Linked DNA regions of Homo sapiens. The protein of the gene in region 1 purifies or fractionates together with the protein of each later gene. This does not show direct contact. Each region holds a gene or a part of one and is shown in the gene's direction. Other genes may lie near its edges.

The links.
Region 2: the proteins of CCNYL1 (region 1) and SERPINB2 purify together in Homo sapiens (affinity purification with mass spectrometry; 2 studies listed by BioGRID and IntAct, with this or other methods). This does not show direct contact.
Region 3: the proteins of CCNYL1 (region 1) and CAPG purify together in Homo sapiens (affinity purification with mass spectrometry; 2 studies listed by BioGRID and IntAct, with this or other methods). This does not show direct contact.

The regions. Positions count from the first base shown.
Region 1 is NC_000002.12:207,742,628-207,749,652, forward strand, and holds part of CCNYL1 (cyclin-Y-like protein 1), read left to right. Parts: intron 1-4,419; coding exon 4,420-4,586; intron 4,587-7,025. UniProt on the Homo sapiens protein: Key regulator of Wnt signaling implicated in various biological processes including male fertility, embryonic neurogenesis and cortex development. Activates the cyclin-dependent kinase CDK16, and promotes sperm maturation.
Region 2 is NC_000018.10:63,897,692-63,904,400, forward strand, and holds the end of SERPINB2 (plasminogen activator inhibitor 2), read left to right. Parts: intron 1-35; coding exon 36-153; intron 154-4,048; coding exon 4,049-4,191; intron 4,192-4,712; coding exon 4,713-4,877; intron 4,878-5,209; coding exon 5,210-5,614; 3' UTR 5,615-6,197; downstream 6,198-6,709. UniProt on the Homo sapiens protein: Inhibits urokinase-type plasminogen activator. The monocyte derived PAI-2 is distinct from the endothelial cell-derived PAI-1.
Region 3 is NC_000002.12:85,407,355-85,414,561, reverse strand, and holds the start of CAPG (macrophage-capping protein), read left to right. Parts: upstream 1-4,195; 5' UTR 4,196-4,245; intron 4,246-4,252; exon of another isoform or gene 4,253-4,280; intron 4,281-4,749; exon of another isoform or gene 4,750-6,001; intron 6,002-7,207. UniProt on the Homo sapiens protein: Calcium-sensitive protein which reversibly blocks the barbed ends of actin filaments but does not sever preformed actin filaments. May play an important role in macrophage function.

The DNA.
Region 1 (7,025 bases):
TACAAGGCATGGTGGCAGGGCTGGGGGTGATGGGGAGTGGTAACAAAACCATGTGGTTCAGAGCCAGATACTGATTCCAGTGTAGGTCTAAGCCAAGTCCCAGGCTCTATTCCCCAGGTATTTCCGATATGTGTGGTGATTGAGAACTATTGCCCTAAATTCTTTGTTCCTTGGATGATGGGTTTTAATCATCTCTGCCTACCTCTTGTGCCTGCTCGTGATGTTGCCCAGCAATGTGGTACCAGCAATACTTGGACAAAGGCTTTGCTGATTAGCTTACTAAGCTATAGCTGTGTCCTTAACTTTATGTCCTCCATACAGAATTCCTATGGTAAGATTTTATCATTGAATAATAAATCCTATTCAAGTGGTTAGGATTGTTTTACTCCTCCCCACAGCAAACCTATAGAGGAAGGTCAACTGCATGGCCTGGAGGGAAAGAATACTTAGGTCAGTACCTACTCCTTTAGCATCCAATTGGAATTTAGGAGAGAAGGCTTCTGTGCACTTGAATAGAAGCCCCTCAGTGGGTACTGGATCAGACTTAGGCCTTTTCATGGAGCTGTAAGCCATTTGGAACACTTAGCACATACTGTAGAGAAGCAGGAGTGGTGCTTCCAGATGTAGAGAGACAGGTGATACAGGAGAGGAAGCTGTACAGGAAGAGGGGAGTTCATTTTAGATGGTTTAAGCTCTATGTGCCTGTGAGGTAGCAGTGACAGTGTCCAATAATCATTTGAATGTACCGGACTGGAGCATGAATCTGAGCTTAGAGGTAAGGAATGAAGAGTTATAGTAGCTGTTCAAATACAGAGAAAGGTTGCAGAATGAAAGTGGAGAAGCTAGGCATGGTAGTGCACACCTGTAGTCCCTGTTGCTGGGGAGGCTGAGGTGGGAGGATCACTTGAGTGCAGTAGTTTGAGTCCAGCTTGGGCAACATAGCAAGACCCCCATCTCTAAAAAAAGAAAAGAAAGTGGATAGAAGATAGATCTCTAAAGACTGTTAGCATTTTTGAGGGACAAGCTCCCAGATGGAGTGGAAGGAGGAAACCCAGGAGAAGGTAATAAAAGAACAGAGATCAAGATAAGAGAGGCTATGGTCCCAGTGTTAAATGCTGCCAAGAAGTTTCTGATTCTGTAAATATTCACTGGGTGCCTACTCTGTGCCACTATTCTTGTTTTTTGTTTTTGTTTTTGTTTTTGTTTTGTTTTGTTTTAATTTTTTAGTAGAACTAGAGTCTAGCTATGTTGCCCAGGCTGGTCTCAGAACTGACCTCAGGTGATCCTGCCAGAGTGTTGGGATTACAGACGTGAGCTACCAAGTGCTAGAGTAGAGGAGAGGCAGATTGAACAAAGTTCTTGCCTTTATGAGCTTATGTTCTAGTGAGGAAGACATTTTTTCAGGTAGTGGTAAGTAGCAAGAAGATGAAGCAGCATAAAGGGATACAGAGTGACAGGAGGGGCTCACTATTTTAGATAGAATGATCAGGAAGAACCTCTCTAGAGGTGACATTTGAGCAGTGACCTGATCAAAGCAAGAAGGTAAAGAGTGCTGGCATTACAGGCAGCCAGACAAGTGCCAAGACTAGACAGGAACATTTTGTGTGTGTGTGTGTGTGTGTTCAAGGAACAAACAGCAAGGTGTCCCGTGTGGTTGGAGTGAGTTGGAAAGAGTGGAGGAGGTTGAGGTCACATAGGGCCTTTTGGCTTGCAGGCCACAGGAAGGTTTTTTTTGTTTTGTTTTGTTTTGTTTTTGAGATGCGGAGTCTTGCTATGTCACCCAGGCTGTAGTGCAGTGGCTCAATCTTGGCTCACTGCAACCTCCACCTCCCAGGTTCAAGCAATTCTCCCTGCCTCAGCCTCCCGAGTACCTGGGCTTACCAGTGCCCGTCACCACGCCTAATTTTTTTTTTTTTTTTTTAAGTAGAGACCGGGCTTCGCCATGTTGGTCAGGCTAGTCTTGAACTCCCGACCTCAGGTGATCCGCCTACTTCGGCATCCCGAAGTACTGGGATTACAAGTGTGAGCCACTGCGCCTGGCCAGGAAGAAGTTTTTATTCCAGTTTGATGGGTACTTTAGGTAGATTTTGAGCAGGGGAGTGAAGTGCTCTTAAGAAGTTATGCTGATGGCTTGAAGAGAGTAGGCCATAATTGGCAGAATAGAGGCAGAGAAGAGAGTTAAGAAGCAACGAGGGTGATACAGGTGAGCAGTGACAAATGGCAGCTCAGAATCAAAAGCGAGCAGCCTACCAATGAAGGTGGACATAGCAGGAATTGTGCACAGTCTGGTGTGGGATAACTTGAATGTAGGTATTTGGTCTCAGCAACTAGGTGAATGGAAATGCCCTGTACAATATTAGGGAAGACTTGGGGAGTGGAGCAGTGGGATGAAGAGCTCTGGCTTGTAAGTGTGAAGACTCTGGGGACCTTGGCAAGAGGAGTCTCAGGAGAGTGACAGCAGCAAGGGACAAACAGGAGTGGGTTAAGGAGAGATGGGAGATGAGAAGCTGACACCAGGACATGATGCTTTGAGCAAATGAGAGGACACATCCGGGGAGTTGTGGGGAGGGGGATGGGAACAAAGGAAACACGTTGGGGAAAATCTCTGGCAGAGAAGGAGAAAGCCTTCAAAAAGACGCAGTTGCGGGGACAGTGTTCTGCACAAGTGGGAGGGGATCAACTGCACTGATGGAGTTGGCTTTAGTGGGAAGAAAAGAACTCTCACACTGACACAGGAGGGCAAGTGGTATCAGTGAGCATCAGCACATCACCAGCTTACCCGTAAAGGCAACAGGAAGTTGAGGGATTGTCTATGTTGTTTCCCTGTGGTCTAATTATTCCCATTGAGATTTGAACCCTGTTAGGATACTGAGAGTGCAGAATTTGGGGGAAAGGGAACAGAATCTCTCTTAAGAACATGTCATGTTCAATATCCATTTTTGAAAACACAGTCCAGTTTGGAGAACACTGCCAGATCTGATCTGCCTATCTGATAACCTTCAGACAGTAAATAAGCTCTGTTAAAATGAACTTTTTTCAGGCTTGGCACAGTGGCTCACGCCTGTAATCCCAGCACTTTGGGAGGCTGAGGTGGGCAGATCACTTGAGGCCAGGAGTTTGAGACCAGCCTGGCCAACATGGTGAAACCCCGTCTCTACTAAAAATACAAAAATTAGCCAGGCGTGCTGGCGGGTGCTCAGCTACTTGGGAGGCTGAGGCAGGAGAATCGCTTGAACCCAGGGGGCAGAGGTTGCAATGAGCCAAGATTGCATCACTGCACTCCAGCCTAAAAAGATTTCTTTTTGTCTTGATACAGAGTTCAAACAGCATATAGACATACTCTTCCACAGAGAACCCTTTGAGGTAACAGCAAATTACAGCTTACCTCTGAAATCTTTACTCAGCTGTTCACTTTGCTCAGTTCTTTGAAGGATGTTTGGTAGATGTAAAATAATTCATGAAATTGTCTCATAAACTGCTTGGCAGGTTTAGAGGAATACCAGGGGTCCAGAGACATCCTTTTGTCCATCTGTGTTCCTTGTGGAGGCACTGAATACGGGGAATATTTTACAGCCTAAAGACCTGTCATGCTGCTCTGCACAGCAGCCACTGGGTGGCTCTCTTGACCAGCAGTTCTTCAAGCTAGTGCCACAAAAGGGTTAGTTACTGTGAAAAGGAGAAGGTAAAAATGTGCTCAGTATTACTTGGGTTTTACATATTTGAGCATAATATAGCTACCTGTAAAATTACTATCTACCATGCAAGTATGATACATTGTACCTGGTAGGCACTCATTATTTATTGAACAACTCTATTATGGGTGTGGAGGTGATAAGAGTGCCTCTCTTGATGATGCTGTTTGCTGAGATGTCCAGTCATTCCTGTGACTGGGTGGGAAATGTATATGGGCAGAATAGGCAGCAGAGATATCTGACCTACAACTGTGATTTAGTGTCTTGCTTTGGCTGAGTAAGCAAAGTCTCTGTAGAACATAAGAATAAAAGGCACTTATTTTCTGGTCAAAAACAAAAGAAATTTGTCAGTCATGAATTCTTATCAAAGCATTTCGGGGCCGGGCGCGGTGGCTTACGCCTGTAATCCCAACATTTTGGGAGGATCTGGTGGATCACCTGAGATCAGGAGTTCGAGACCAACCTGACCAAAATGGAGAAACCCCGTCTCTACTGAAAATACAAAAATTAGCTGGGCATGGTGGCGCATGCCTGTAATCCCACCTAGTCGGGAGGCCGAGGCAGGAGAATCACTTGAACCTGGGAGGCGGAGGTTCTGTGAGCCGAGATCGCACCATTGCACTACAGCCTGGGCAACAAGAGTGAAACTCCGTCTCAAAAAAAAAAAAAAAGCTTATCAAAGCATTTAAACTGAACTAAAATCAAAGACCAGTGCTCTATTTTACAGGTTTACTTAGAAAGGCTTTTAACTTATGCTGAAATCGACATTTGTCCCACCAACTGGAAAAGGATTGTTCTGGGAGCCATTCTTCTTGCCTCCAAGGTTTGGGACGATCAGGCTGTATGGAATGTGGACTACTGCCAGATCCTCAAGGACATTACAGTTGAGGACATGTGAGTTTGTAAGGTTTTGGTGAACTTTCTAACCATTTTCCAGTATCTTATTCCTATAAAGTTAACAATTTAAGGAATATTTTTAAAGGTTACATTATGCAGATAATGGAAATAGGCATAAGACTATATCTGTCTATCTTTAGTATAACAGTTCACAATAGAGCAAGACTGTCTCAAAAAAAAAAAAACTAACTTCATATTTTCCATCATTACTTGGTAGGTTTTGATGTGTAATAATCTGCTTGATAAATTGAAAAATATTTTTTGGGTGGTTTTTGGCAAAAATCTTACAAGTATACTACCAGAACAACATAGCACAGTAAATATCTTTATTTTATTTTATTTTTTGTTTTGAGACGGAGTCTTGCTCGGTTGCCTAGGCTGGAGTGCAGTGATGCAGTCTCGGCTCACTGCAAGCTCCACCTCCCAGGTTCAAGCGATTCTCCTGCCTCAGCTTCCTGAGTAGCTGGGATTACAGTGGGATTACAGGCATGCGCCACCATGCCTGGCTAATTTTTGTATTTTTAGTAGAGACGAGGTTTCACTGTGTTGGTCAGGCTGGTCTTGAACTCCTGACCTTGTGATTCGCCCGCCTCCGTCTCCCAAAGAGCTGGGATTACAGGCATGAACCACTACGCCTGGCCTCTTTATGGCTTTTAAAAAGTTATCTGCCAGTTCAAGCTCCTTTCTCTTTTTCATTCATTCATTCATTCATTCATTTATATCTTTTCATGTGACCAGTAGGGTATAAACAGCCCTTAAAGGGCATATGTCTGGCCTTTGAAATAATTGTTTGGCCACTATTAGGTCTTAGGGCCTCTGGACTATTGAGAAGTTACGTAGCTTCAACCTGAGTCACACATTGTATATTTGCTTTTGCTAGTCTTTCCACATTTTATCTGAAGGTCTGTTTTTACAGAAGCCTTGAGATATGAAGATCCCTGTGCCCCTGACCCCTCCCCATTAGGAGTGTTTTTTGTATTTAGAAATTGGTCTCCTGAGTTAGGAAGCTCCAGCGTTCCCCTCAGGCGGTCTGAGAAGCACTGCTGGGGCATCATCCAACGCTCACCACACTCGAGAGGCTCCCTGGGCACTCGGACAACCACAGCACCACTTTGGGGGCCTTGAGTTACCTATGAGAGTGCAAGGATCCTTGCTGAGTCATGGAGTTCCTCACAGATGGCACCAATATGACCCTGAAACAGCAGCTTCATCAGGGTTCCTTCCAGGCTGGCCTCGTGTCGGCCGTGAAGGGAAGGGCCTTGGAGCTTGGTAGGCAGGCTGAGCCAGGGAGGCATTTCCAGCAAAGGCTCTCAGGGTGCCCACCAGACAGTGAGAATGGCTTTGTGGGTGGCATTTAGAAAAATATGAAGGAGCACCTCTTGATGATGTTGAGCAGCAGAGGAAGATCAAGGTCATGACAGGCAGTGGCAAGAGTTTGTTTTTATTGCCTTTGCCCATTACTCCATATGACTGTCATTCAGAATTACCATACCATATATTCACAACTGAAGTGAGGATACTTGTGACTAAAAAGGAACCAGTAATTGTGGTAGCTGTTGAAGTGGCTTCTGGTGAAGTTGACCACTTTACTGTTTACCGAACAGCCCTAGTGATATTGCTGGTAGCCGTTTTAGCAAAGGGTGTGACAGCAAATGAATTTGAAACAAATGGAAGTACTTTTGGAAATTGCAGAAACTAAAGTGACTTTGATCACTGCTGTCATCCGTCTGCAAACTGGTTTCTTGAAGGAAGCAAAATTTATTATTATGAACACTTAGCCCTACCATGATGGCAGCTAAAATGTTCTCAAAACCTGCAACTGAACTGACTGGTGCTCTAGTTCAAGATACAGTATCAGAGAACCTGCAGGGAAATGTGCAGGTTTCTACAGATGTAAGCTTCAGGAGCAGTGGTGGCAGGGGCCAGCTCCAAGAAGACCAGTTCTAAATAGTGCTGTTTGTGTATGCCCAGGGAAGCACCAGGAGCTATGCTACAAACAGGCTGCTTTTGTTTATGATCTTTGGAAAGCATTTCAACAAACTGTTTAATATACATTTGTCTCATCCCCCTGCTGTTGACTATTTGTAGTGGTCTCATTTTGAGTCTAAATTGAAACAATTTTAAATTGGTGTCTATCAGGTTTTTCTTAAAAATTTTCAACAGCTACATGTCCTGTTAGAATATATTTCCCTTTAAAAGAATAAGTTAAACTGAGCAGCTGCTATTCAGACGGTTTGCTGTGCCTGTAAAGGGTATGCTATTCAGCCACCTAGCCATTTAAAAAAAAACAAAAAACCTAGAAGATGCATATTCTGTAAGCATAATGCTTTTCTTCAGTGATTAAACCTCTATTAATATGTGTGTTAATCCTATGAAGTACTATATTTCTACACAGTTAAAATGTATTAGTGGAAAAAATATAAAAGGGATTGTGAA
Region 2 (6,709 bases), on another chromosome or scaffold:
TTTTATGTAGCCTTTGTCATTTTCTTGCTTTAAAGGAATATATTCGACTCTGTCAGAAATATTACTCCTCAGAACCCCAGGCAGTAGACTTCCTAGAATGTGCAGAAGAAGCTAGAAAAAAGATTAATTCCTGGGTCAAGACTCAAACCAAAGGTAAATCCAAGAAAATATTTTATTTACTTCTTTCCAGTTAGAAAACTCTGATCTATCTTTTTCCATCCATGAACTTAGTTAGCCCTCACCCCTTTACAATTTGTCCAACTGCAGTTACTTTGGTGGATGTGAATTTATTCCTGATTAGCTCAGTGGTGTTTTAACTGAGAAGAAATAATTGAGGCCTACTAATAGAAGACATATGTTTAGTACTTAAATATTTGATTTTGGATATTGCTTGAGGATAGAATATGAAAGGAGGCAGAAGCTTTCAAAATAGGAAATATCAGCATTGAAATAATTGTGAGTCTATGCCCACTGTGGACAAAAAGAAAACAAGGCTTGACCCTGAGCTTAGTAAATGGTGTGAGCTATAAAGAATACAGGCAGTGGAGGAGGGAAGAATCATAAAATTATTTTCACTCTTTCTTCTCTTTCACCATTCAAAGCCAATCCATTGTCAAGTTTTTTTGGTCTCTGCTTCATCCCTCCTTGATTATCTAAGTCACGTCTACCATTTTAACTCATGCTTTTAATTGTTTCACAGGCTCCTGCCTCCCTCTGTATATTTTACAATGAATAAATTATTTAATTGAATCATTTATTCATTGTAATTTAGTTTATTAAGTCATTTATTCATTGAATTCATTCATTCATTAAGTTCTATTAAGTTCATTCACTTAGTCAACAAATATTTATCCACCACACACCATATTCCAGAAACTATATGTGGAGATAAAGATAAAAATGGTAAATCCTGCCACCATAGAGCCTATAGAGGAGGGATTCAGTCATGTTGGCAATTGCTATAGAGTAGTAGTCAGTGCTTTCATTGAGAAGTACAGGTGCTATGTGGGAGTACACAGGAAAGGCATCTGACTGGATTTAAAAATGATTAAATTGTAATTGGGAAGACAGGCTGGAGCTGGCCAGGTGGAGGGTGCATGCCTGGGGGGAGATTTCCAGACAGAGTGCACAGAATATGCAAAGGTCCAGAGGTAACCCTAAGGAGAAGAATAGAGTCTGGTCTGACTGCAGTGTGGAGGGCCAAGGGAAGGAGGTGAAATTAAAGAGGTGATGCAGTACACTTATTATGCTATTCCCACACTAAAAACTGTCAGTGACCTCCTACTGTCCTCAGGAGAAGGTCTCATTCTTTACCTTGACTTCTGAGTTCTCAGTAATCCAGTTGACTGTGCTTGGCTACCACTGGCCCTTGGAGCTCCTTAAACACTCATTGCTGCCTCTAGACTTTGTTTCTGAGGATGCCTCAACTACAGGATTTAAGTTGCAGTTTAAATTGCAGCCAAAGTCTTACTCTTTCCTGGAAGTGACTCCCAATTACTTCCTGATCTTTTCTTCTTCTCATCTCCTCATCTGCTTTTTCAGCTTCACAAGTCACATTAGTGTTAGCCATATATGGCCTTAAACAATTATGGAACTGATTTTTGTTAGTTTGTTTTGCTTTTCCTCTCAGGCTCTAATTATTTTTGGGTAGGTCCAGTATGTCACACTTATCCTATGCCCCCACAAAAATTTGCACAGTTTTTTGCTGACAGTGAAAATCCTTCATTCTTCTGAATTTCCAGGTAGAGTTGTAGGCCTTAAGTAAACAATTGCTGAATAATAACATATAAATGTATTTCTAAGAAACAGAGATGATTATGAATTCAGAATTGTGTAAGTATTTCATTCATTTATGATCTGTTAGGATTGAAAATGTCCTAAGAGAGCTCCTATCCATCTTACCAATTTGTGGTTGGAGCATCCTGTTCCCAGGGGATTAGCCGGCTCCCCTAAGATCCCACTGGTAGCGGTAAAGCCAGGGTTGCTTCTTCTTCTGATCCTTAGTCTAACTCCAGAATTCCTCAATCGGATGTTTAAAAATTTTATAACTTATTTTTTTAAGGATTTTCATTTAACTCTTATGTTTAAGACATTGTTTCAAGAAATAGTTTGGTGTCTTGCTTTATTAATTACCACAATGGAAAATGCACATAAACTAAGTGCTATGGGATTTCAAAAAATATATATTTATTTGTTTATCTGAAAATAATTGATTTCCTTTTAGTTCTTCATTTTCATTGTGGATTTGTGAAATACTGTTCTAAAATATTGACAGACCACTGACACAAAGGAAGCAGAGAAAGATGATTTAAATCAAAAGTTCAAGTAAAAATGGAGAGCAAAATTAAAGAGACACATGGAAGTTTTGCCTTCTTTAAAGAATGGCATGAATTGTTTTTCTCTTTAGACATTGTGCTAAATGGCTGTAAGTCAATCAGTTATTTTGCCAAAATGCCAAGCAGCTATTTTGGCAGATTGTTTTACCAGCTTTTGTAAGAATTGGAGAGAATTGTCTGTTTCATCATGCTATGATCAAATACTAGTTTTATCATATACATCACAACATTACTATACCCCAATACTAACCAAAAATTTTAATAGCTTGGGAAATATATTGAATGTATATATTAAATGAATACATTGAAGATGAAACTGATGCAAGGCAGGCAAGCTCCAAAGTGGGGCTTAGCCTTCAAGGGTTCTTGGCTTCACCCAGGAAAGTATTCAAGGGTGAGCTGGAGGTAGGGTAGAAGAAAACAGCTTTATTGAAGTGGCAGTATTACAGCTCCATGATTCCTCCTGCAGAGAAGGGCTACCCCAGGCACTGTGCTGAGAGGCACAGCTCAGGGCAGTTTGGGGGTCATATTTATACCTACTTTTAATTACATGTAGATTAAGGGGCAGTTTACGCAGAAATTTCTAGGGAACGGGGAATAACTTTTGGGTCATCAGGTCATTGCCACAGAAAGAGGTGGTAACTCCAAGGTGTTGCCATCACAATGGTAAACTGACATGGTACACTGCTTCCATCCTGTCCCTGGTCCCCATTTTAGCTAGCCCTCAATTTGGCCTGGTGTCTAAAACCTGCCTCCAGAGTCAGGTCCCACCTCCTACTTCAAAACCACATTGACCTATTAATTTGTTAAGAGTCTTGTATTTGTCAGTAGTTTTGACTGTGGAGGCAGAATTTTTACAAGCTTACCAGCATTGTAACGTTGGGAAGACTGCTAACCTGGTGGTGTCCTTTTGCATAAAATGACACTAATAAAACCCACCTAATAGAGTATCAAAATAATATATTTTGATGCTTGGAATACTGCAGAGCGAGTACTAACTATAAACAAACTGCTTCTTAAACCAATTTCATTTTTTTAAATGACCACACTCATTTGTCATTGTTTCTGTCAATCTTCTCGGGCTTACTCCTTCACTCCCTTCTCTGTATGATCATAGTACTCAATATATTATTTAGCTCAATTACAGAAGTTATCACACAGGGTTTCACAACTGATTTTGAATGTCTCCCCCAGTGTTCTAGGCTCATCCAGGATAATTCTTCCTTTCTCATCTCTTGTATCTGCACTACTCTTAATTTAGGTCTAGTATATTTTTTACAAAACGTTTTTGAATAAATGAGTAAGTCAGATCCTCAGACTATCTAGACCAGATCTAGCAGTACATGATATATTTTGGAAAGGCACTATTATATTCCCTAAGAACCTCTCTTTCACTTCCCTCTGATTTGAATAACTTTCAACTGCCAAGCTTTGAGAAAAGAATATAAAAGGGAGTGAAAATCTCCATTCCAAACTTGATAGGCGGTCTAAATTTTAAATGCATTATTTCTTCATTTTTTCTTGGATTTTGCAAGCTTTTGGGAAATTTGTTTCAATTTTAATTTTGCTTTAAATAAACCTAAAAAACTTTAGCTTGAAGATTAACAACTCTGCAATTTGAAGAATTTAGTTTGATGGCTACTCAGAAGATTCAGTAAGTAATTTCACAGTTCTTGATTATGAAACCTAAATATATGTTATGTTTTCTGTAGGCAAAATCCCAAACTTGTTACCTGAAGGTTCTGTAGATGGGGATACCAGGATGGTCCTGGTGAATGCTGTCTACTTCAAAGGAAAGTGGAAAACTCCATTTGAGAAGAAACTAAATGGGCTTTATCCTTTCCGTGTAAACTCGGTATGAGACAACAAAATACATCTTCCTAGCATATATTTTAGGGCTTTTGACAAGATATAGACAGAAAAATTAGAGACCGCTCATTATAGACTTGCTAGTTAGAAGTTATGCATGTTGGACAGTTGATTGACTCTTTAGAAACAGTATAGGTAAAGGGGAAGACTGTGGCTTTTTAATTATACATGCCCAGACTCCAACGTTGGCTCTACCACTTATTTCAAAGGGCTGTAAATATTGAGACATGGCACGGTTCCTGGCCCATAGTAAGAACTAAACAAGTGTTTTAGAATTATGGTTGTCATTACCATTGTTGTCCATCTTACTAAATAATGGGTATAAAGTTGAACAAGCTAATAACATCAGAGTACCCACTGTAAGGATGTACAAATAATTTATTTTGTTGATTTAAAAAAATCACATTTATCCTACACTAAAGTAGAACCAATCCTCCTTTATGTCTAATTGTAAATCTCTTGATATCTTATAATCGACTTCCATATTTTACCTTTTAATAATATTAGGCTCAGCGCACACCTGTACAGATGATGTACTTGCGTGAAAAGCTAAACATTGGATACATAGAAGACCTAAAGGCTCAGATTCTAGAACTCCCATATGCTGGAGATGTTAGCATGTTCTTGTTGCTTCCAGATGAAATTGCCGATGTGTCCACTGGCTTGGAGCTGGTAAGACATTCAGATATTTAAGTTTCTGGGGCTATACCTACCTTTCGTGAGATGAGATGAATATATACTCCTTACAAATGGTGTGGTAATTTCTCATGGAAATATATGAAACAGTTGATAGTAAATATGGCATGCCTCTACATTTCATTCAAAGCCTTAACTATGTCATACGTGTTACCTTCTTGTAAAAATCTGACCAATCTGTTAACTTTCTATATCACCCACAATATAGTAAAGTCACTGATTTTTAATATTAGACTTAAAGTTGTTTTCCTTCTTTCTAATACTTGCTGTATTTTCTTTTGTTTGTTTTGTTTTGTTTTGCTTTGCAGCTGGAAAGTGAAATAACCTATGACAAACTCAACAAGTGGACCAGCAAAGACAAAATGGCTGAAGATGAAGTTGAGGTATACATACCCCAGTTCAAATTAGAAGAGCATTATGAACTCAGATCCATTCTGAGAAGCATGGGCATGGAGGACGCCTTCAACAAGGGACGGGCCAATTTCTCAGGGATGTCGGAGAGGAATGACCTGTTTCTTTCTGAAGTGTTCCACCAAGCCATGGTGGATGTGAATGAGGAGGGCACTGAAGCAGCCGCTGGCACAGGAGGTGTTATGACAGGGAGAACTGGACATGGAGGCCCACAGTTTGTGGCAGATCATCCTTTTCTTTTTCTTATTATGCATAAGATAACCAACTGCATTTTATTTTTCGGCAGATTTTCCTCACCCTAAAACTAAGCGTGCTGCTTCTGCAAAAGATTTTTGTAGATGAGCTGTGTGCCTCAGAATTGCTATTTCAAATTGCCAAAAATTTAGAGATGTTTTCTACATATTTCTGCTCTTCTGAACAACTTCTGCTACCCACTAAATAAAAACACAGAAATAATTAGACAATTGTCTATTATAACATGACAACCCTATTAATCATTTGGTCTTCTAAAATGGGATCATGCCCATTTAGATTTTCCTTACTATCAGTTTATTTTTATAACATTAACTTTTACTTTGTTATTTATTATTTTATATAATGGTGAGTTTTTAAATTATTGCTCACTGCCTATTTAATGTAGCTAATAAAGTTATAGAAGCAGATGATCTGTTAATTTCCTATCTAATAAATGCCTTTAATTGTTCTCATAATGAAGAATAAGTAGGTATCCCTCCATGCCCTTCTGTAATAAATATCTGGAAAAAACATTAAACAATAGGCAAATATATGTTATGTGCATTTCTAGAAATACATAACACATATATATGTCTGTATCTTATATTCAATTGCAAGTATATAATAAATAAACCTGCTTCCAAACAACAATACATTTGTTGTCATTTCATTAGGTCTGCAGATCATAGACCTTGACTCCTAGGAGTTGAGCATTATGACTCACTTGTGAGAACTCAGAAAAAATAGACAGGATGAAGGAGCCAAGGACATAACAACCTTCATTCAAAAAGACCCAATGTTGAGGGTCAGTGGGATGGGGTTGTATGAAAAATGGGTTAGAGCTGCTTTCTCACAGCAGCAAAGACATAGCAATTCAGAATAGTCTAGGTTAGAGTCCTTTGGGGAAACCACTGTCTAAACATTAAGGACACCAGGATTAATGACCAAGTCCAGTGGTCCAGACACAGAAGAAGGCCTCAGTCATTGAGCTCAGAGTTGCAAGCAGTGAAGATGGGAGATGGGTTGGGTGCAAGAGCAGGAGGGGAAACATAAGATGGCTCTTTCTAAGTGTGTTTGTTTCTAATAGCAGTAATGCTTTTGAATGAGTCAGAGGCAGAGGAGAACATAATTGAAGACCTGAGAAATAAGGCAAATTGTAGGTT
Region 3 (7,207 bases), about 120 Mb from region 1:
GCTACTCAGGAGGCTGAGGCTGGAGGATTGCTTGAGCCTGGGAGGTTGAGGCTGTAGTGAGCTGTGATCACAGCACCGCACTCCAGGTGCCGCGACAGAGTGAGACCCTGTCTCAAAAAAAAAAAAAAAAATCTTAGTTCTGCTACTGAACTAGCAATGTGACACTCTGGACAAGTTAGTTACCCTCTCTGAGCCTCCCAAAGACTTCATGTTTCCAGCAGGAATAATGATAGTAGATGTGAGGACGCACCAAGCACATAGTAGGCTCTCACAGAACAGTAGCTGTTCACAGGGTGATTGAGGCCGGGGGCCTAACGATTGAATGGAAGTGAACACTGCAATTCTCTCGCAAAGTTTACAGCACAGTAAGCTTGTCCTTAGCTTCCCCTATACCCTCCTTCCCACGCCCAATTCTAGGACCCTTTCGGGCGCCCCAGCCTCCCATAGGGGCTCCCCGCCAGCTCAGACCGGCCGGGCCCCTCCCTCTGACTCACCGGGGGCGGCTCCTGGCCGCGCACCTCCAGGGGGCGGGGGGCGGCTGAGACAGCGCCCAGGGCCTCGGAGCAAGGCGTTGGCAGGCAAGTAGTGCGCTTCGGGGTCCGGTCGCCGGGGACCTGGGCTCCCCATGTAGGGGTCGAACGGGCTTAGCCGGTTCGGGGGCGCCCCGCTCCCTCCTCTTCTCCCACAGCCGGGGTCCTCTCTTAGGGGCGCGCCGTCTCCTGGCTTCCTGTAAGAAAAGGCGGGAGAGGGTGGGTCCGTGCTAAAGAAATACTTTATTTTACTTCATTTGGGACAAACTAAGCAGTAGTGCTCAGGGGAGACCACAAGGGTAGGAACACTGTGCGTCTGGTAAAAAAACTAGTTCTAGAGCGTCGTTACCAGATAACTCATTAGCATGTGCATTGAGTTCCTAGCCGCTCCCGAGAGTCCTAGGCTGAGCGACCGGCCCTTTTGTTTCGCTGTTGTTGTTGTTTGTTTTTTGAGACGGAGTTTTGTTTTTATTGCCCAGGCTGGAGTGCAGTGGCGAGATCTCGGCTCACCGCAACCTCCGCCTCCCGGGTTCAAGCGATTCTCCTGCCTTAGCCTCCCGAGTAGCTGAGATTATAGGCGCCCGCCACCACGCCCAGCTAATTTTTGTATTATTAGTAGAGATGGGGTTTCGCCACGTTGGTCAGGCTGGTCTCGAACTTCTGACCTCAGGTGATCCGCCCGCCACGGCCTCCCAGAGTGTTGGGATTACAGGCGTGAGCCACTGCGCCCAGCCAGTTGTTTCGCTGTTAATGTGTAAACCTCTCCCCTTTTTTCCTGTGGTGATAGGAGAGGCTTTAGCCTAGACAGCTGAGTGTGAGGAACAGTGATTCCCATTGATCCTTGTTCCCTCCGTGGGTCACAGAGTCCAGAACTTAAGAGCCACCCAAGGTATGCGCTGTTGTGACCAAAATCTATGAAGCTTTCCAGCGCTGGGGCTGGGGATGGAAATAGGAGAGTGCTCTGTGGTTTAACTTTCTTTCCTCCTGTGGAGAAACCGGGAGCTAGGGGAGTGGCCAGGCACATTTCTACCTCAGGTGCTGATGGCACATTGCAAACTAAAGGGAAGAGAAAGAAGTCTGGGTTTATCGAGCATGTATTATTTGCTCATTAATCATAGGATCTCATTTCATCTTCACATTTAACTGTATGCACGTGTTACAGATTGGGGCACAGGGAGGCTCCAGGAGGTTAAGTCACTTGCACAGCTAGTAAGGAGCCAAATTGTCTAGCTCTTATCACTCTACCAGGTTAACCGCCCAGCCTGTGGTTTTGTGGGGACTAGGCCCTACTGGGATTCTCACCCAGACTATCCTTTTTTTTCTTTTTTAAACTTTTAAGTTCAGGGGTACATGTGCATGTTTGTTATATAGGTAAACTCGTGTCATGGGGCTTTGTTGTACAGATTATTTTGTCTCCCCGGTATTAAGCCTAGTACCCATTAGTTATTTTCCTGAATCTCTCCCTCCTCCCACCCTCCACCAAACTACCCTATTATTATTGTTATTATTATTATTTTTTGAGACTGAGTCTTGCCCAGTCACCCAGGCTGGAGTGCAATGGCGCAATCTCGGCTCACTGCAACCTCTGCCTCCCGGGTTCAAGCGATTCTCCTGCCTCAGCCTCCTGAATAGCTGAGATTACAGGCATGCGCCACCACCCCCGGCTAATTTTTTGTGTCTTTAGTAGAGATGGCGGTTTAACCATGCTGGCCAGGCTGGTCTCGAACTCCTGACCTCATGATCCACCCGCCTTGGCCTCCCAAAGTGCTGGGATTACAGGCGTGAGCCACCGCGCCCGGCCCATATTACCCTATTTTTAAGCCTGGCAGTTTGGCCATGGAGACACTTGGATGCTAGCTACAGGCCATGTTCTTTGGGGAGAAGATTTAACTTCCCGTCTTGCTCTAGTGAAATTTTATCAATTTCGTTTCAATGAGAAACATTCATCCAGTATTGCTTTTTTTTTTTTTGAGATGGAGTCTTGCTTTGTCTCCCAGGCTGGAGTGCAGTGGCGCCATCTCGGCTCTCTGCAGCCTCCGCCTCCTGGGTTCAAGTGATTCTTCTGCCTCAGTCGCTCCAGTAGCTAGGATTACAGGCACCCATGACCATGCCCGGCTAATTTTTGTATTTTTAGTAGAGACAGGGTTTCACCATGTTGGCCAGGCTGGTCTTGAACTCCTGACCTCAGGTAATCTGCCTGCCTCAGTCTCCCAAAGTGCTGGGATTACCGGAGACAGCCACCATGCCCAGCCTATCCAGTACTGTATTTTCTCCAGACTTTTCCCACGCAGTCAAATAATGAGGTTTTGTTTGAAGGTCTGCTAATTAGGAAGATTTGTTCCAGATTTTGCTCCAGGGTCCCCAGGCCTTGACCCTGAACCTGGAGCCTTGTCTCAAGCCAGCCTGCTGACCAATACCTTTCCAGGACAGGCCGGCTAGGTTCTGGGCAGAGGAACTACGCTTGTGTGGCTGCATAACTGGGTGCTCACTTTCTCCTGGAGCCTCATACTGAGTCCGCTCATCCTTCCCCCAGGGATTCAGAAGGGAATGGGAGCCTCCCTTGCAGGGGCTTCCACTCCCTGTGTGTTTGTGGGCAGTCTCTTGTGCTCTCAGGACCTCGGTGTCCTCCAGAAAGCCAGCGAGTTGGAGGAGACAAGCTCTAGGGTCTAGTGACTGTGATGTAGGCAGGATAGTTGCCCTGGGTCAACCCAGGATGGGCTGTCTCTCAGAGGGCCCAGGGCCCAGAAGTCATGATGATAAACATCTGGTGAATGAGAAGCAGACCAAAGGGTAGAGACCTGAGAGGCATCAGCATGGCATGCGGAAGATGGTGAAGAATGTTTTATGGCCTCAGCCATTCCCTGAGAACTGAGCTTAGCCAGGTGCAGTAGCCCACGCCTGTAATCCCAGCACTTTGGGAGGCCAAAGTGGGAGGATTGCTTCAGTTCAGGAGTTCTAGACCAGCCTGAGTAGCAAGACTCTGTCTCCAGAAAAAATAAAAAAATTAGTCGGGCATGTTGGTGCAGGCCTGTGGTGTCAGCTGCTCAGGAGGCTGAGGCAGGAGGATCGCTTGAGCCCAGGAGTTCAAGGCTGCGGTTAGCGGTGATAATGCCACGGCACTCCAGCTTGCGTGACAGTGAACCCTGTCTCAGGAAAAAAAAAAAAACAAAAAAAACCAAAAAACTGATCTTAAAAAAAATCAAATACTTGCATTCAGGGCAAGGAGAAAGACAAACTGAGGGAGGAGGAAAAAGTAATGTGAAGCCAGTGACCCTGCCCAGAAAATGTGACTAACCCAGCAGCGGTGGGGGCTGTGCCGCGCCTGCCCCAGGCCCTGAATGGAGAACATGGCTTTCCTTGCTGGTCTCAGACTCAGAGATGCCCTCCCTGATTTGCCTTGGCTGTGACCTGCAGCGGGCTGAGGCCACTGTGGTGGGGCTGTGTGGACCTCCAGCCTCCCTGTGTGCCCCTCTGAGGAGACGGCCTGGCATACCCACTGCCCACCCCAGTGACTGCTCTTCTGCTTCAGGCCTGCTGGCCTCCCAGCACTGCCTGCCCCTCCCTGTCGGGGGACATCGCCTCCACACCGGCTGGGGAAGGAGCCCAGGGGTGGGGCTGGTGGGTGGGGCTGGTGGTTGGGGCAGCCAGAGAAGTAAGAGGGAAGTGAGAAGCCGGGTGGGGCAGGCTGGAAGGAAGACGAACCTACGAAGCAGAGGTAGGAGGAAGAAAGGAAAGTAGGAGTGTTGAAAGGTGAAGGTGGCAGGGTGGCTGCCAGCGCGGCTGGCTGGTACCCTCCTGGGTGGGCAGGCGAGGGCTGGCTGTGGTGGCCTGGGAACAGAGACCCACATTTCTGGATACCACATTGTGCCAGGGTGGAGTTCCCCCAGCCTGCTGTCCTGCCAGCCTTATGCCAGGCTCCAGGCACCTGATCTGATGGCAGCTGTGAAGCTGCCCGGGAGGATGGGTGGGCTGTGCCCATGCTGCACATGGAGGAACTCTTGGGTCAGGGCTTGTCCCAGCTGTGCCAGACCTCCTGACGGAGGCCACCACACTGCTCCTGAAGGCCCTCAGCCAGACTGGAGGTGAAATCAGATTAGAAGCTGCCTGTCCCCAAGACAGGACTGTGGTGTGATGCTATTTGGGTGGGAGTGGCTTGGGGAGGGGGCAGGGCAGTCCTAGCCATTTGAATTCAAATGCAAGTGGCACATTTGATTATTTTGCAAACTCTGGAAGACCTTGGCTGAGGGTCTAGGTGGACTGTCTGAGGTAGGAGGTGGGGAGGGAGGAAGTGGTTGACCCTGGGGAAGGGTAGGAGACCTATTTGGTATCAGGGGAAAAACCATTTGGAATCCCCAAATGAGGCCTCTGGACCTAGATTCTGAGAATGCCATGTCCCAGGCTGGGAGATTCAGTTTGGTTTCGAGGGTGGGCACCTACCTCCACCAGGAGAAGTGGAGGTGCTGTTTCATTTCACACCTAGGGGCAAGCAGGGACTGTGAAGGGAAGAGACCTATTGGGGGTCAGTGGAATCAGGGTCTGAGGAAGGCAAAGGTACCACTGGACCCCGGCAGGATTTTTGTCCCTCTGATGGCTGTCAAGTCTTTCCTTAAAGGTGTGTGTAACGGTGACCTCCTCTCCGAGGTCCCCCAGTGTGTCCTCAAAGACAGCCTAAGTCAGGACCATGGGACAGCCAGCAGGACTTGCGTCCTCCCCTCCCCCAGCCCCATGGCAGTCTGGGACCCCTAGCCCCTGCTCTCTGCCTCCTGGGGCTGCTCCAGCCTGTCCCAGCCTTTTGAAATCCTGGGCTATCCCTTAGGTGCCACCCCAGTCTAATAATCAGAGCCCAGCAGGTCCAGTTAATCAAATGCATTCTTTGAGCACCTGCATGAGGTTCCAGCTAGATCCAGAGGCAAAATACACTTCCTGCCCTAAAGGACCCTACAGTGTAGTAGTGGAGGTAGGCGGGTCCATAACTCACCACACTATGGCAGAGTGGGGAAAAGTAAAGGCTTTAAGAGGTGTAGAAGAGGCTGTTTGGTAAGGTGGTGAGTTTCCCATCACTGGAAGCCTTCAAGAAGAGGATGGTAAGGGATGCTATAGAAGAGATTTCTGCACTATGCGTGTATGGGTATGTGTAGGGCGGTGCAGGCAGAGCAGGACTAGATAAGAACTTTAGCGCTTTCTTTTTTTTGTTTTATTCCTCCCCCCCGGCCCCAGCTCCCCTCTTCAACTTTAGCACTTTCTAATGCTGACATCTGTGATTCTGTGACATTCCCCACTTAGAGGAAGTTCGTCTGCGGTTTCACTGGGTATGGTGGCTCCCTTGTTCACTGCACCCTGCAGCTAAACCATAAAACATGGGCTATTCTTTGTCTCTGTGCATGTCACCCCCAGTGCCAAGCCCCCAGCACAGACGTTGAGTGGAATGGAATAGACTCTTTGCTGGGCTGCTTGAGGAACAGAGGCATCAGGTGTGTCCTTGCTCCAGTTGAGATGTGAAGCAGCCAGTTTATGCTATAAAACAGGCTAAAGTATGTGCTCCCAGGGGAGAGGGCTGGGAGAACTCCCAGAGAAGGCGGAGGCCACTTAATGTCCTGGAAGTTTCCTTGGACAGCTGGGGCTTGATACGGGCCTGGAAGGATAAGGGGGCTTGTGTGTGTGTGTGTGTGTGTGTGTGTGTGTGTGTGTGTGTGACAGATTCTTCCTCTGTTGCCCAGGCTAGAGTGCAGTAGTGCCATCTCGGCTCACTGCAACCTCTGCCTCCCGGGTTCCAGCAATTCTCCTGCCTCAGCCTCCTAAGTAGCTGGGACTACAGGCACGCACCACCATGCCTGGCTAATTTTGTATTTTTAGCAGAGATGGAGTTTCACCATGTTGGCCAGGCTGGTCTTGAACTCCTAATCTCAAGTGATCCACCCGCCTCAGCCTTCCAAAGTTCTGGGATTACAGGCATGAGCCACTGTGCCCAGCCTAGGATGAGGGGGCTTTAATGGATGTAAGGGTGAACATGGACACTGAGGAAGCTCAAGGAGCTGTGGGCTTGGACAGAGGGCTGGGATAGGGGAAAGAATGAAAGGCCAGAGGTCAGGGTGGACCCTTCCCCAGGAGAGACTGGAACAAAAGGTCTCGGGACAGAGATCTAATGAGGCAGCAGGAGTTTCAACCCTGACCAAGCATTAGAGTCATCTGGAGCTTCTCAAACACTGACATCCAGGCTCCACCTAGAGAGTCTGGTTTTAATGAGTCCAATATGGAAGCTAGTCACTGGGGTTTTTCTTTCTTATTTTTCTGTAAATTACTTTTTTTTTTTTTTTTTTTTGAGACAGAGTCTCACTCTGTCACCCAGGCTGGAGTGCAGTGGTGTGATCTCGGCTTACTGCAACCTCCACCTCCCAGGTTCAAGCAATTCTTGTGCTGCAGCCTCCCAAGTAGCTAGGATGACAGGTGTGCGCCACCACGCCCAGCTAATTTTTGTATATTTTGTAGAGACAGGATTTCACCATGTTGCCCAGGCTGGTCTTGAACTCCTAAGCTCAAGCATTCCACCTACCTCAGTCTCCCAGTGTGCTGGGATTACAGGCATGAGCCACCATGCCTGGCTGGCACTGGGGTTTTTCAAAAGCCCCCAAATGATTCTAATGTGCAGGTGAGCATTTGACACTGTTCTGGACAGAATT